Regions from separate parts of the Homo sapiens genome. Here region 1 is linked to region 2. A link means that fine-mapping ties the variant in region 2 to the expression of a gene that starts in the linked region. Tissue or cell type: putamen. Region 2 holds a variant in brackets; the other region holds the start of a gene. All regions are shown on one strand. Distances are between the middles of the regions.

Region 1 (8,103 bases), 270 kb after region 2:
GGAGCCGACAAACCCCATTATACCCTCCTCCCTCTGGAATTCAGGCACAACTGAACAGCATTAACGTTAAAACAGAGATCCTAGGAGTGACAAAACAGACTCTGTAGCAATAAGATACCGAATTTCAACCCAATATAGCATCATATGAGATAGCAGGCCCTGAAAGAAATCAAAGTATTTTACCCCAAAATATATTTCTTTGACATATTTTGAAATGGCCCTGCAAAGCTGCCTATTGTCAGGAAAATCTACATTCTGTACAGAATCTCCTTCCCTTTCCAGGTCTCTCCTGATCCAGGAGAGATGAACTAAGAGTCTGATCTACATTCTGTACAGAATTTCCTTCCCTTTCCAGGCCTCTTCCTGATCCAGGAGAGATGAACTAAGGGTCTGGCACCTTTTTAGGTTTGACAGACACTTACCATCTCCTGTCTCTGAAACTCGCTTCCTGGGACTTCAGCTACATAGTAAGAACCATGGTCTCCATACCCCTTATCCTAGACACTCCTTTCTACTGATTCCAGGTCTTTAGATAATAACTTAACTCGTTCAACCAATTGCCAGTCAGAAAATCTTTGAATCCACCTATGACCAGGAAGCCACTCCTTGCCCTCACTTCAAGTTGTCCCATCTTTCCACACCAAACTAACATATTCCTTACACATGCATTGATGGAGGTCTGCCTGTAATTTTTTTTTTTTTTTTTTTTGAGACTAAGTCTCACTCTGTCGCCTGGGCTAGAGTGCAGTGGAGGGATCTCAGCTTACTGCAACCTCTGCCTCCCAGGTTCAAGCAATTCTCCTGCCTCAGCCTCCTGAGTAGCTGGGACTACAGGCATGCCCCACCATGCCCGGCTAATTTTTATATTTCTAGTAGAGACAGGTTTTCACCATGTTGGCCAGGCTGGTCTCGAACTCCTGACCTCAAGTGATCTGCCTGGGATCACAAGTGCTGGGATTACAGGTGTGAGCACCTGGCCTGCCTGTAACTTCTGTCCCCCTAAAATGTGTAACATCAAGCTGTAACCCAACTGTCTGGGGCACATATTTTCAGGATCTCTTGGGACTGTGCCTCAGGCCTTGGTCATTCAGATGGGTTCAGAATAAATCCCTTCAAATATTGTATAGAGTTGACTTGTCCACAAAAGGGAAGGAAACAGGGCATTCTGACATTCTGAGACAGGACGGGTAGTGAGGAGCCTCTCACAAACCATGGATATGTGTATATGTGTGCATGTTCTTGCACATACCAGCACATGCCTCCCCAAAGAGTCCCCTACTCCCAATTCCAAGGATGTCCACCTCTGCCTTGGCCCAAAGTTCTCACCTCTACCAGGCTCTCCCGCACCTGTGGTCTGAGACATCAGCTGGTGGGTTTGGCTTTGAGAATAAACCTGGGTCACTTGGCGGGCTTTTTTCTGTCTGCTTGCCAGGAAGCCTGCTGAATTCCTCTCCACCTCTGCCCTTGTCCACAGAGAGGGGCGGCCCATGCAGTTCACAGCTAAACTTAGCCTGGCAACGCTGGAGTCACGGGGCAACAGGGGCTGAGGGAAGATGGAAGCTTCTGGGTGGCCCGGACAGAGGGCTGCAGGTGGCTGGCTGGGACCAGTGGTTTATTCAGACCTTTACTGTGAGGCTGGCCGGAAGCCAAGACCCTGGGAGAAATCCAAGGCTTCCTTCCTTCACTGGGGTCCCTCACTCCTGGGTCCCCCAGAGCCTGCAGCACTCCCCACCATAGCTTAATCCAATAAACACCACAAAGCATTGCCTAACACCCATAGCTCTCCCATTTCTCGAGCCCTCACTAGGATGTGCTGGGCACTGCACACACTAACCACTGTAAGTTTCTTTTCTTTTCTTTTTTTTTTTTTTTTTTGACCACTGTAACTTTCTAAGAGGTGGGTGCCATCCCTGTTTTGCAGATGGGTTAACCAAAGTCCAAGAGGCTAAGTCATTTTCTAGCCACAGGACTAGAAAAGCCATAGCTGGGCTGAGATTCAAGCTCATTCTGTCTGTCTTTGCCAGCAAAGCTCAAGTTTTTCCACTGTGCTACATGTACGGAGCACATACTGAGCTCGAGGAACATGATGGATGCTTCAGGGCCTGCAGTGATGAGTATGGCCTGACCCCTGGTAGCAAAAGCATTACAATCCACGCGGGAAGGTAGACAGCCACTACGTATGGAGTCCCCAGACAGAATGAGATGTGGGGCATAAAAGGCACGTGAGCTACAGGCTGCAAAATGCAGAGGAGGGAGGGAGCTTCCTTCCTGTTCTCTGAAGGCCTCTCCCTGTCTGGAGCTCTCCCTGCCCTCACCTGTTGGGGAGATGTCAGTGTGCAACTCCTTGGCTCCACCTTCACCTCCTCCTCTCCTTCCAGACAGAATTACTACAACCAACCAGGAACAGTAGGAGCATGTGTCCGGCCCCACAACCTGTTCATCACACCGCTTTTGCCCCACTGCCCATCTACTCCCACTGAGGGTTGACTGACCACAGCCTTAAGCAGCAGGGGTGCCCAGGACCCATTTCTTGGCCACCTGGTATTCCCTCTGGGACAGTGGTTCTCAACGTGCTTAGCAGCAACAGTGCCACCTGGCAACTTGTTACAAATGCAAATTTTCACAGGCAACCTGAAACCCGCTGATCAGAAATGCCAGGGCTGGGCCCAGTATCTGTGTCTCAACAAGCCCTCTAGGTCATTCTAATGCCCGCTTATGTCTGAGAACCATCCCTTCCCAAACCAGGCGTCCTCTGGGTAGGAGGGTGGGGCTCCTGCAGTGTCACAGCAGCCCACATCCTGGAAATTGCCAAGGGCTTGCCCAGCACACAGCCTGACAGATGCAATTAGCTCTGCTAATTACAACAGCAAAAGAAGGCCTGGCCCTGGCGTCACGTTCAGAGCCAAAAGGAGTAGCTGATAGGTTTCCTTTACGAAATGGAATAAAGGACTGGCTGAGGGCAGGGGAGGGCACTTTTAGCCGAGGCCTTGGGGGTGACTTGGGTCCCTTTCACTAGGTTCTGGGTCCTCCAAGAAAGAAGGAGCCAAGGGAGGCCCAAACTGCCATGAGTTTGGGCTGAACTCCTTCTGTATCCTGGCCTTGTGCTGCAGTTTCTCAGCCCCAGCTGATGAGGTACACAGTTGTTGGGGGGAAATCAAGCCAAATATTTAAGAAAGTCAGAATATAGAGTTGAATTTAGGTTTCTTTATTTTACAGAGGTAGAAACCGAGGCCTCAAGAGAAGACATGCTAGGCCTGGAGGGTGGGTGGAGTAGAAGAGGCAGGCTGGGTATCATCCCGTGGACCCTCCCAGGGAGCACCTGGCAGTGATTCCAGCACAGAACAGGGGAAGGGTGGTGAAAGGTGAAGATGTTTACATGACCAGCCATTTAGGAAGCAGGTACCCCATACTAGGCAGGATGCTAAGTACTCTGCATATGTTTTGTCATTTAATTGTCACAACCTCATTTAGGTAGTTGCATTAAAACTCTCTTACAGATGAAGAAGACTGATGTTCTGGGAAGGTCACTGGGTGGCCTCTAGGATTCCTGAGTCTGCAGTGCATGGCTGAATGTGAGCAGCACCTAGGCTGAGTCTGCCCCTCCCTCTGGTCTCCTTCCAACCCCTCAAGGGACTGATGGAAAACTGAGTGGGTCCTGCCTCTTCCCCTGCCTGGGGGTACCTCTGCAGCATCATTGTCAGTGGTGACCACCAAAATTATCCAGGTTGGCTGTCTCCCGAGCTTCCCAGGCCTTAGAAAAACAGGACTTTGAGAAAGGAGCATGAGTTCTACCCTGAGTCTTGGTTTTAGAGTTTGGAACTCATGGGCGGGCGGTCTGAGCCATCGTGAAACCCTCCTCCCATGGCCCAGCCTACTTGTCTCACCCTCAATTCCATGCTTCTCTCTAGCAGGGCTCACGCCCCATGCTGCAGTGACACCAGCTTCCCATAGCACAAGGCCAGCTCAGGGCCCTTCTCCAGGCACCTGCCCCTGGATCTGGCCTATCTCACCCTTCCTGGAACTCCTGCAGGTCAGGCCACCTTCCTGCTCTTTACTGTGTCACCCACCGGTCCCTGCCTTCCTACCTACAGTTCCAGCATGGTCAAGAAGCTGAATGTTCTCCTGCAGCCCCCAGGGTACCACGCACGGGGCTGGGCACACTGCAGGCTCCCAACATGTAAGTAGGAGTTGACTTATTGCACATTGGGAGGAGGTGGCTGGTGGCAGATAGAGCTGGGGAGTGACATGTCTCCACCAACTCCCTCCTTGTTGCCTAACTCAGGACAGAGGACACAGCACAAATGGCTCAGTAACAATGGCTCTGAATGTGTCACTGCTCAGCCTGATTGGCTCCCATCCTTCCAGGACAGTGGGACAGGAGAAGGGCTTTGCTCCAGCAAGTGCAAGGTCTCAGAGCTGCTCCCACCAGGGCATCTCTGGCTGGGTCCCTCTTCACTTGCACTCCAAATGGGGACAGGAGAGGGAATATAGAGGGGCAGGTGAGCAGACTGGGGCCGGAGGCTGGGCCCTGAAAGGGGAGGGAGGGACAGGCAAAGAAAGGAAGTGAGGAAAGAGGAAGGAAGAGGACCAACAAAAAGATCATTGAGAAAGTAGGTGGAAAGGGTGCGTTTGCGGCTCTGGGCTTGCCGCACTTCCTTTTCTTCTCGGCGTCCTTGCAGCCCTGACCCCGTCCAGTCATCTGCCCCCTCTCCCACTGGGCAGGACCATCATGTTGGCCAACCCACCTCCCCCAGACCTGCCACCCTGTGGCCACTGGGCTCCTTCCCTTCCTCTCTCCAGACACCTGTCTCGAGGACCCGGGTTGTAAAATCAAGTGTCTGGGAGGGCCAGCCCGCAGGGAAAATGAGCGGGGCTGCAGTGGACAGCTGAGAGGAGGGGACACTGGTCGACTGGATGGCACATGCTTCGTCTGAAGGGGCGAGTCCCCACGCCACACATTCTGTGCACCCAGAATGACAAGATCTTTTTTTTCCCAAAGAAAAGCCACTAATCTGGACTTTGTCAAAATCCCCCCATTTTTAAATGTTAGCTGCTATTTCAAAAATTCCTTAAAAACCATGTGAGCAACACTGGGTGCAGTGGCTCACACCTATAATTCCCAGCACTTTGGAAGGCTGAGGCAGATGGATCGCCTGAGCTCAGGAGTTCGAGACCAGCCTTGGCAACATGGCGAAGCCCCGTCTCTACCAAAAATATAAAAAAACTAGCTGGGCGTGGTGGCACATGCCTGTGGTCCCAGCTACTCAGGAGGCTTAGGTGTGAGGATTGCTTGAGCCCGGGAGGCGGAGGTCACAGTGAGCTGAAATGGCGCCACTGCACTCCAACTTGGGTGATACAGTGAGACCTCGTCTTGAAAAGAAAAGAAAATGAAATAAAATATGTTAGTGGCCACCCAGAGCCTGTGGGCTCTGGTCTGCAACCCCCCATGAAGCGTTCCTCAAGGTAACCCCTAACCCAGGACTCTCCTTACTCCTACCCCATCAGCAACTACTCAGCAAACCCACTATTTCCTCTGAGTCCATGACTCCCTGAAATACTGGCTCCACCTTTCTCCCCAAACCTAGGCCTGATTACTCCCGTGTCTCCTCGTTGGCCCCAGCAGCCACATTCGGAATAATCCTAACCAGCACTTATGAGGGCTGACTCTGTGCCAGCCCTTGTAGGAACTTAGTGTAAATGCCAGAGCAGATTTTCTTCCTTCCCCATGGCCTCTGCAAGGACTAGAAGAAAAGAGAGAAGAGGCTTTGTTGGGTTGGCATCCTGGTGACTTTTTTTAAGTCCCTCCCTCTTCCTAGAATGGGCCTTGAGGACACTTAATGCTTCGAGTGGGTGGAACCGGGCACCCCGAGTCCAGCCAGCGTGTGCACACGCGGACAGCAGAGGCTCGCCTAAGCAAAAAGGCCTAATGGTGCTGCGCTAAGAAGCGCTTGGTATTAGAGTAAGGCCTGTGGGCCCCAGGAGCCCCAACTGTCCCTCCCTAACCCAGGGGAGAGCCCAGACTGACTGAGTGGGATGCTGGGCTCAGAAGCACCCAGGGGTCAGTCTGGACTCTGGTGAGGTGGGGCAGCAGGACAGACAGCAGAGAGGGGAGAGCTCCACCCCAGTGCCCACCTGAGGTGGCCCTACCACCGAGCCGGTGGGGAAGTACACGCGGGGCAGAAGCTGCCTTTTTTTGCTCCAGCGAGCCTCTGTTGTCTGCATGTGGACACTCTGGCCGGACTCACAGGAGGTGCTGCTCACACCCGTCCAAAGCATTAAGTGCTCTCAAGGCCCACTCTCGGGAGAGGGAGCGGTTTCAAGAAGTCACCAGAATGCCAACTCTGTTCTCAGGACTGGGTCATGGGGGTGGTCTGCCAGCCAGCAGAGGCACAGGAAGGACAGAGGGCTGGACTCTGCTGGCTCTGGGTGGGTGAGCCACATCCTTCCTGTTCCCGCTCCTCCGCCGGCTGATGCACGTCCCTCGGCGAGCAGATGGAGAAGGCAGGGAAGCCATCCTCTCCCAGGAAGGACAGAGTGTCCCTCCGTCCAGCCACTCTGCCTGCCTCCTCCAGCAGGACATCATAGAAATCACAGCATCTTGGGACAGACAGACAAACGCCTGATCTCTATGGCTGGGTTGTGGAGAGGACAGTGAGAAGAGACTACAAGGAGTAAAACAGTAGCAGAGACAAGGAGGGGGCTCCCCTGCAACCCCTGAGCTCTGGCCCACACCTCCTTTTCTCCCACGCGTTCCCTCCAGGGCATCTCAGATCCATTCAACTGTGTGGGTTGAATGGCAGCCCTCAAAATATACGTCCTCGCGCTAATCCCCAGCCCCTATGAATGGGACCTAAAAGGGTCTTTGCAGATGTGATTAAATTAAAGAACTTGAGATGAGATCATCCTGGATTACCCGGGTGGGCCTTAAATCCAATGACAAGTATCCTTATGAAGTGACACAAAAGAGAGAGACAGAGGAGAGGTGAGGGGAGACGGAGGCCAGGATGGGAGTGACGCTGCCACAGCTGAGCATCATCTGAGACAACAGGAGCTGGAAGAGGCAAAGAGGGACTCTCCTCTAGAGTATCTGGAGGGAGTGTGGCCCTGATACCTTGATCCTGGTCTCCAGAACTGTGAAAATAAATGCCCACTGTCTTAAGCCCTCCTGGTGTGTGGCAACTTGTTATGGCCACCCCAGGAGACTACTGCAGTCTCAAAGCGCAATGCACCCTCCTCTCTCCCAGCCAGCTCCCCTCGCTGACCTTCCTCTTGTTGGGGTATCTCCAGTCTCCCCAGCCACCTCTGACCTGGCCTTTGCTCTGCACCGAAGCCTGGGGATTCCACGTGAGATGGAATCTCTCTCGTGTGCTGGCCAGCGTAGGCCTTTGGGGTCAGCTCATCTGAGCTCTCCCTAACACTCCAAACCCCCAGTTAGCTCCCCAACCCTGCACGTCTCCCCTCCCCATTTCAAGGGAGTCTTGTTTCCATGGGACACAAGTCAGCGCTTTAAGAATGTTCAAGGCCTGGCCCAACCAGCCTCAGAGGACCTCTTGGTTCCCTCTCTGCCTGGCCCGGCCACTTCAGATCATCTCCTGTCCCCCAGATAGCTCCTGCACCTCCCCACCATTCCTGGAAACATCCATGCTTCACCCCTCTGCTGGCCAAAACCCTACCCAACTGACCTCACAGCAAGCCCATCTCAGACTCCACCTCCAAGGAGCCTTCCAGGATCCCAAGACAAATCCCTCTTTCTTCCAAGGGATAGGAGAACAGGGGAGGGAGAGGGACATATGAATTAGGCCCCACTGAGTGCACCAGGTACCTCATGTAGGTCAGGTGGCTCTGTAGATGCACCGGCACACAGCAGGCACCCAACTGAGGCTGGTCCCATGTGTCTCTATCCTTGAATTATTGCATTTAACCCACGCAGCAACCCCGGGGGAGGGGGCCATCAGCCTCATGTCCCTGGCAGGAGCCCAAGGTGCTGAGAGGTGGGGCAATGTGCTCAAGGTCACACAACAGCCTGGCTCCAGGCCCCGTGTCGCCCTGGTGTGCCCGACAGCTGCCTCTGTCTTTGTCTTGCCCCATCACCTTCCTCACTGT
Region 2 (8,103 bases):
CTGCCCTGCCCTGCCCCCTGAGCCCCACCTCGGCCTGACTCCTCACCCTCACCACCCAACTCCAGGAAGGCCACTGCTCCTGTGACCACTTTCCCGGTGGATTCCAGGGATGTCAGATGGGTTCTCAGCCCTAGGCCTGGCCCTGTAGCCCAGCCTATGCCCAGCGTCTCTGCAGGGCCTAGCACAGACCCTGACTCAGGGTGGGTGCTCAGTAAATGAAGGAAGGGGGGAGAAACAGAGACAGAGTGAAGGAGGGACGGGTGTTGACAGAGAGAAGGAAGCACAGGCATAGCTAACTCTGCCGGTGAAGGAATTGCCTCTTACCTCTTTCCCCTTTCTCTCCAGATCCAGGAGGCCCTGCCTCACCACGAGGTCCCATGGGGCCTTCTCGCCCTCTCTGGCCCATGGGGCCTTCCATGCCAGGATCTCCTAAAGACAGGGATGGCCAGCCTCCAAGTCAGGATCCCGTACCCCAGCTAACGGCTCCACAGGCAGCCTCCCACGGCAGACGCTTGCCTGGAGCCCTTCCCTGGCCTCCCTGCTTGCTTCTCTCCTGGACCCCATAGCCTTGGCTCAACCTGGAAGCCAGAGTGACCCTTTGAAAATGTGAGTAGATCATGTTCTACCTCTGCCCCAAACCTGCACATGGCTTCTCAACTCACCCAGAGTCAAAGCCAAAGTCCTTACACTGGCCTCTGAGGCCCCACACAGCCTGCCTCCTCTCGGCCCATCCCTTTGGACTTTCCAGCTCAGAGGTCTTCCCCTTCCTGATGCTCCTTAAAAATTGCCCTGGGGCCTGAGCCTTGGCCTTGGCTGCTCCCTCTGCCTGGAATGTTTTCCCTAGATCTCTCCTGCTTGGCTCCTTCTTGCCCTTCGAATCTTTGCTCAAATGGTGGCCTCTCAGGGAGGCCTTCCCTGGCTTCCCTGTGTAAAATTACTCTCCCCAGCTCTCATTCCCAAAATCCCTCCAGGCTCTCCTTTCCCATGTCGTGCATCACCCGTAAACTGCTATAGACTTCACTATTTCTCACAGTTACTGTCTTTCTCCCAAACCCAAATCTCAGCTCCACAACAGCAGGGTTTCTCTGTTTGGTTCACTGGTGTCTCTCCAGAGCCTAAAACAAGGCCTCACATACAGCAGGCACTTAATGAATGTTTATTAAATGAATGAAAGAATGAGGAATAAATGAATAAAGAAAAATGTGTTTCTTACCCACGCTGCCTTTTTGACCCTTTGGTCCTTGTGGACCTGGGTGGCCCAAGGGCCCAGGGATACCTGTGAACACACAAGGATATCTCAGCCCCTGTTTTCCTCCCAGAAGCCATCAGCTAGGATTGAGCAGCTGCAACACTGGCAGGCCTGGAGGTCATCAGAGAGTACATACCTGGAGTCCCAGGGAACCCTCGATCTCCTGCAGGAACAAAGGCAAAAGAGAGAGTGGTCAGCCAGAAGACTGTGCCCAATTCCCAAAGCAGTCACTAGTGGGATTCAGGTAGGGTTGCCAAACTTAGGAAATAAAAATGCAGATGTCCAGTTACATTTGAATTGCAGATAAACAACACATAGTTTTAGTTATAAGTATGTCCCATGAAATATTTGGGACAAGTTATAGTGAAAAATTATTTGTTGTTTATCTTCAAAGTTAACTGGGAGTCCTGTATTTTATCTGACAACTGCAGGTTCAGGTACTCTGGCAGTATCAGTCCCCACCACTAACATGGTCAGGAGGGGTGTGCGGGCTGGAGACTTGGGGAAGGAGGGCTGGGACAATGACCCAGGTATATGCGAGGGTGTGGGTGGCAAGGATCTGAAGGGAAAGAAGAGACTCGAGGGCCCCAAAGTGGAGGAGCTGACTTCCTGCCCTGGGGTTGCCTAGGGAGTGAGGAGGGAGCTGGAGAGAGGTGGGATCCTGTCATCTTGAACGTGGTGCTCAGTATTCTTCTGGCTGCAGAATCACCGTGGATGACTAAGATAAAGACTCCTGCCCACATGCATACCCCCTGAGTCAAAGGCTCGGGAAATGTGGCCCAAACTCTTTTGGAGATTCCTGTGCACAGGGAAGCTCGCCAATCCCGGTCAGCTGGACCAAGGAAAACTGCTCTGTGTCCAGCCAAAGGTCCCTGGGATTGGAAACCTCTCCTCCTCACACACCTGTCCCATCTGTTGTCAAATTACTTCTTGGAGTGCAAGGTGGGTTTTCTGACACTTGCTGATTGTTTGAAACAATTAACACTTGCTAATATTTAAGGTAAAAATGCCCATGTTATAATTACCTTTAGGGCCTGGACTTCCCATGTCACCTGAAACCAGAAAGATATGAAAACTGTGAGATGGGGCAAGAACCCAAAGGCCATACTCTGCCTTGTATTTTAAAACCATTTGACAAGATGTAAACTGTATTTCAAGGTGAGGCGACATGCGGCGAGTCCCTCCCAGTCCCAGAGTCTATGTCATTTGGGCTCATTGCTGGGCTTCTCTTAGATGCTGCCTTATCTAAGATATTCTGACTCTAAAACCAACAGATACCTCCCAACAGATACCATAAGATCATTCAGCTCTTCATCCTTCCATTTAGAACAAAGAAAAAGGCTTCTAATCTACCCAGAAAACTCACTTCCAACTGCAGGAAATGAATCAGAGACAAGGTTCAATCCATGGCAATACCTTTAGGGCCAGGGCTTCCTCGGAGATTTCCTGCAAGAAAAAGCAAATCCTGAGTCAGCTTCACATCTCCTGTCACACACACACACACACACACACACACACACACACACAATAAGGGGATCATGGTATGGGAAGAAGAAACTGAGGCAAAGACTAGAGATCAGATTCTAAATTTGGCTAGTCCAGTGATCTTGAGCAATTATTCTTTCCAGAACTCAGTTTTTCCAGGAGTAAAGTGGGACCACAGTCTTGGTCCCACCTACCTCTCAGCGCTATTGAGAGGATCAGGGGAGGAGAGAGGCCGAGAGTGGGCCGGATGATGGTGCTCACAGCACATGCACACATACCACATAGATGCAAAGAAGAAAGGGACTCAGGGGAGCTGGCCCTGTGCCCGGCGATGCTCTCACCATTTTCCTGTTCCATCATTAGCTTCTTCCTCACGAACATCCAGAGCTCCTCCTGGCTGTCACTGTGCAGCCCAATTTTGTCCAGGTCTGCTCCCGCCGCGGGTGCCATGCCCTGGAGGCGGTCCTTTTCTATTCTATCCATGCTGTCCCCATAGGGCAGTATGCTCCTCCTGATCCTCTCCAGCTCATCCACACGCGCCTTCAGCTTCCTCACCTCCTCCGCTGCAACAAACAGACACACACTGCGTCACTGAGGGCCCGGTCCTTCGCCTTCCATACACTCGCTCCTAGTGGAGAGCCTGACACAAGGGATTGGGGCCTGTGGTGGCTTCTTCATGCTAGAATACTCATGCAGAGATAATCTGCCGTGGCCACCAGCAGGATTAGCTGCTCAGCATCACAGCAGAGCCTTAAAGAAACCTGGCCTGGGAGTCAGTCTTCTCATCTGAGCTGGGTGACAAAGCTTGTCCTCACTCTCCCTGTGAGGTGGTGTGAGAGCTGATAGAAATAGATATGGCTGGCCAGGCGCGGTGGCTCAAGCCTGTAATCCCAGCACTTTGGGAGGCCAAGGGGGGCAGATCACGGGGTCAGGAAATCGAGACCATCCTGGCTAACACAGTGAAACCCCATCTCTACTAAAAATACAAAAAATTAGCCAGGTGTGGTGACATGCGCCTGTAGTCCCAGCTACTCAGGAGGCTGAGGCAGGAGAATCGCTTGAACTCAGGAGGCGGAGGTTGCAGTGAGCCGAGATTGCACCACTGCACTCCAGCCTGGGCGACAGAACGAGACGCCGTCTCAAAAAAAAAAAAGAAAGAAAAAGAAAAGAAAGAAAAGAAATAGATATGGCTGCTTGGAAACAGCAAAAGTCAAAAAGGCTAAGAAAGTCCTGACCTTGTTACCAAGGGCAGCCAGGTGCTTAGACCAGGGCCTACAGGTGTAGCAAGGGTGGGGCTGAGCATCAGGCGCTGCATCCAAATTCAGCTCCACCACTAAGTGGCAGCATGTCCTTGGCCAGGTACCTCCTGGGGCCTCAGTTTACTCATCTGCGGTAACAAGGGTCTGCACCAATGCATTCAGGTCCCCTCGCCCCCTAACACGTGGGCCCATTCACAGATTCCTGCCCTTCTGACAGGCAGTGGGGCTGGCCTGCCTCCTACCACACAGGCTGCCCTGCTGCCTTTGCCACGTACCCAGAGCAATGAGGCCGAAGAGCAGCCCCAGGAGTAGCAGCCAGGTGAGCAGCAGGCCCAGCAGCCACTTCCACCAGCTGCAGCAGGAGCCGCAGGGGCACCAGGCTGGCGCTGGTCCCCAAGGGCCGCCGCCAGCGCCACCAACACCGCCACCTCCTCCACTGCCACCACCACCACTGCTGCCGTAGCTGTGGATATCTGTGAAAGAGACAGGGAAAATGAAGCAAATGCAGGCAGCTCCTGCCTTTTCCCTCCAGATTCTCTGACTTTTGGTGACTTTCTGGCCTGAGTGACTACGACTGGGGGCTTT[C/T]AAGTTCCTGTGCTGTTCCACCCAGGACAGGGCTGGCTCCTGGACTGAGCACAGGGCCTGACTGGTGCTGACCAGAAGTCTGGCAATCCTGGCTCCAGCTGTGTGAACCTGAGAAGGTCACTTCACCTTTGTTTCCGTTTTTATAACATGGGGTTAAAAGATTGCCTCCTTCTTGGGAAGGTTGTTGAATGAAATAGGACAAGGAATGTAAAATAGTAGAGGAGTTAGCAGCACAGCACGAGGCTTAAACATCTTTATTTTGAATATAGCATTGGTCTGCATCTGACTGGGCCCAAACCTAGAGCGTTCCCATCTCCATGCCTCAGTTCACACAGTGCTTTCTTTAATCCTTACAGTGCCTAGAATTATACTCAGCTCTTCAGGGGTGCCTAGTGAATTAAAACAATGTTTTTTGTAATGAAAAGTGTTTTTAGTTCCCTAAAATGGGGTGGTAGGACTTGACCTGCTTCTATCACACGGCGGTGGAAGGAAATGAGGAAAGGCTAAGGGGCTGGAGGCGTGCATGGCTTAGTCTCTTCTTGAGCTGCTGTGTAAAGACACAGTCACCCTGTTGTGTTAGGAGACAACCTAACTAACAAGTGTTAATTAGGGGCAGCTGGGGGCGGGGGGCCTGTTAGCTTCATCCCCTGAGCTAAGCTCCTTCTGCGGCCACCTCTGACCCACAGCCTGCCACTCCCCTGACCCCCACCCTGCTCCCTTCTGAGCCTTTAGGGAAACTCTTTAGAGTCTGGTGGCTTCTGTGCACTGCACTGCTTCCAGGCGAGGGACCATCATCTGGTCCATTAGCCATAAGCAGCCCCACTGGATCCTGTCACTGCAGGGTTCGCGGTTCTCACCCACCTGCAGTGGTGGTCTTGCCCTTTGTGGACACAGTCTTCAGGTCTCCTGAAAGGACAAACAGATTGACCTGAGCTTTTAAACTGGAGGAGCTAGCTGCTCTGCCTATGGAGTAGCCATTTTTTTATTCCTTTACTTTCTTAATAAACTTGCTTTCAACGACGTGCAGGAACATCCAGCATCTCAGTCCTCACTAATCTGATATTTGCGATAATTACATCCATGAAGACATGGCTTGGCAAACAATTAATGGTGGAAGAAAGCACTATGTTTTAATTCTCTTATGACCTTAAACCTTAACACCTCAAAACATTTTTGGAACACCAAGTTATGGGTGCCGCTTGCATTCAAACAATAAGTGTGGTTGTGAGAAATGACTCTGATTTCTTGGTTAAGGGACTCTGAACACAAGTTCCTGACCTGGGGTGGAAGGAATTGGGAATGAGAAGGATGAGCTTGGAGGAGGATTGTTCCTGAGTCCGTGATGCTATTTGAAAGTTGAGTGTTTAGGCCAGGCACGGTGACTCACGCCTGTAATCCCAGGACTTTGGGAGGCCGAGGCGGGCAGATCACGAGGTCAGGAGTTCGAGACCAGCCTGGCCAACATGGTGAAACCCCGTCTGTACTAAAAATACAAAAAAATTAGCTGGATGTGGTGGCACATGACTGTAGTCCCAGCTACTTGGGAGGCTGAGGCAGGAGAATCATTTGAACCCGGGAGGCAGAAGTTGCAGTGAGCTGAGACCATGCCACTGCACTCCAGCCTGGGCAACAGAGCAAGACTCCGTCTCAAAAAAAAAAAAACAAAAAAAGAAAAAGAAAGTTGAGTGTTTGTGGGCATGTGTAGAATTTACTCGGCAATTTGTTCATACCTTTCATCAGATTCTGAAAAGGATCTTTTGACTCCACAGCCCTAGACCTACCCCTAAAATGTCAGGAACTGCTAACTTTAAAGACTTACAGTCAGGTTCCAATCTCTCACCTTGTTAAAGTGATAACTGATTTGATTGGCATTCATTTGAAAATGTTCTATGACTTAACATTTTCCTTCCTTTACTGACCTCCCTGAAATCAGTGATTTGGAGAGATTCCTATAGGGCATCGTCAAGAAATGTGGTTATCAGACAAAGAACGCAGATATTTGGGAAGAAAAAAAAATAAAGCTAACAACTGCTTTGCAAAGCATTTTTCTATTAGTTCTGAAGATTATGGAGAAAAAGTAAAATGAGAAAACAAATGCCTTCGTAGACATGGCAGAGGCAGGCTTTTGCTTCAGTAATGCAAATGCAAATCACCTAGGAAGCTTGTTGAACTGCAGCTTCTGACTCAGCAGATCTGAGCTAGGGCTGGGATCCTGCTTTTATAACACACTCCCAGGTGTGGCTGATGCTGCTGGCCCGTGGACCACACTTTGAGTAGCAAGGTCTCCGAAGACAATGAAATGAAATGTGGCCTGGCTGAAGTCAAGGTGGACAACAATCATATTTGTTCTTACCATTAGCTTCGGCTTTTAGGCCTGAGTCAGCATTGTAGGCAGCTTGCTTTTCTTTTTTTAGGGTGTCTTCTGAAAAAGAAGCTATGTACAGAACCCATTATAACCTGGCATATTCTCTTCTCAACCTCTCAACTCTGTCCTGTGTTCCCCCCGCCCTTGCCCACTACCCTGCTTGGGAAGGTCTAGGTTAGACTGGTAAGAAGAGCCCCTCTTTCCTGGGGTTCATCTCCCCTGATCTGTGTTTGCGGTTAGACTTGCTGTCGCCCAAATGCCTCTCTGAGAGCTCTTTGCCTGAATTTTCTCAGCTCATCTGCATTCAAGGCAGACCCTGGAACATACTATTCAGACAGGTGCTTTTCATTAGAATGGGATGGCTATGGTTTCATGACTCATAGGGTCCCAAACCACCTTGCTAGGACATTTGGTCTCCTACACTATTTGGCTTTCTTCTGAAACCCAAGCCACACAGGATCTGACGCACTTGCAGCGATGCTGGCAGGGGAGGCTGTAAAGACCTTCCCGCTGTCCTTGGTCATGATGAGCAGCTCCATCTCCTTCTTGGCAGGTGTGTTGTCTTTCTCTAGGATCAGGAACTTGCAGTCCTTGTGCAAAAGGTCATCGCTCTGCACACTTGTGGTGCAGGCTGGGGAGAAAGAAAATGGGTAAGAAGGAAGGACATGTGCCAGGAGAAGGGAGAGGGGAGAAAAGACAAGAAGAGGAAGGAGAAGAAAGAGAAGGAGGAGGGAGGTAAATTAGCAGGTGTGTATGAGGGTCTCTTGTTCTTGCTGACAGTGGTTACTATGAAGCATCTTGGGGACCAAGGACACCCTCTATGCCTGGCTGGGCCTGGCCACCAAGAGTTTGGGTCAATGTCAGAAGCTCTGGATGGCTGGTTTATGGGGGCTGCCTCCCCTCCTGGAGATTATAGGATCTTTATTGAATGGGTAAAAGTCCCCCAGTCAGGTAAGTCCTTCCTTAACTAACTTGGGTTCATTTTTATCCTCCAGGTCTTAAGAGTTGCCTTCTTGAGGAGGCTTTAGCTGACTACCCCATCTAAAGCACTTCACCCTCATACACACACTCCTATCTCTACCACATTACTTATTGCTTTCCTTATAATCTGTATCCTTTTCTGTAATTATCTTGCATACTTTATGTGTTTGTCGTCTGCC

Evidence for each region. PIP is the estimated chance that this variant, and not a neighbour inherited with it, causes the effect.
Region 1: it holds the start of ITPRIP-AS1, and the variant in region 2 is the best candidate, but not a certain one, in a credible set for the expression of ITPRIP-AS1 in putamen (GTEx, PIP 0.73).

Annotation. Positions count from the first base shown.
Region 1 is chr10:104,319,847-104,327,949 of GRCh38, forward strand. ITPRIP-AS1 (ITPRIP antisense RNA 1) reads left to right here and starts at 3,518. Exons shown (of 3, transcript NR_120622.1): 1 at 3,518-3,724; 2 at 4,092-4,177; 3 at 6,493-6,899. All of the region lies in intron 1 of ITPRIP (inositol 1,4,5-trisphosphate receptor interacting protein), which reads right to left. RefSeq lists enhancers at 3,874-4,604, 4,605-5,333, 7,123-7,768, 7,769-8,103.
Region 2 is chr10:104,052,707-104,060,809 of GRCh38, forward strand. It overlaps COL17A1 (collagen type XVII alpha 1 chain), which reads right to left. Exons shown (of 56, transcript NM_000494.4): 14 at 7,413-7,574; 15 at 6,932-7,012; 16 at 5,440-5,484; 17 at 4,269-4,466; 18 at 3,076-3,297; 19 at 2,666-2,695; 20 at 2,275-2,301; 21 at 1,386-1,412; 22 at 1,214-1,276; 23 at 325-429. Among named protein-coding and RNA genes, the nearest start is that of MIR936, 8.6 kb to the left of the region's middle. RefSeq lists enhancers at 376-962, 1,275-2,474. The variant C/T (reference allele first, on the strand shown) is at 4,579.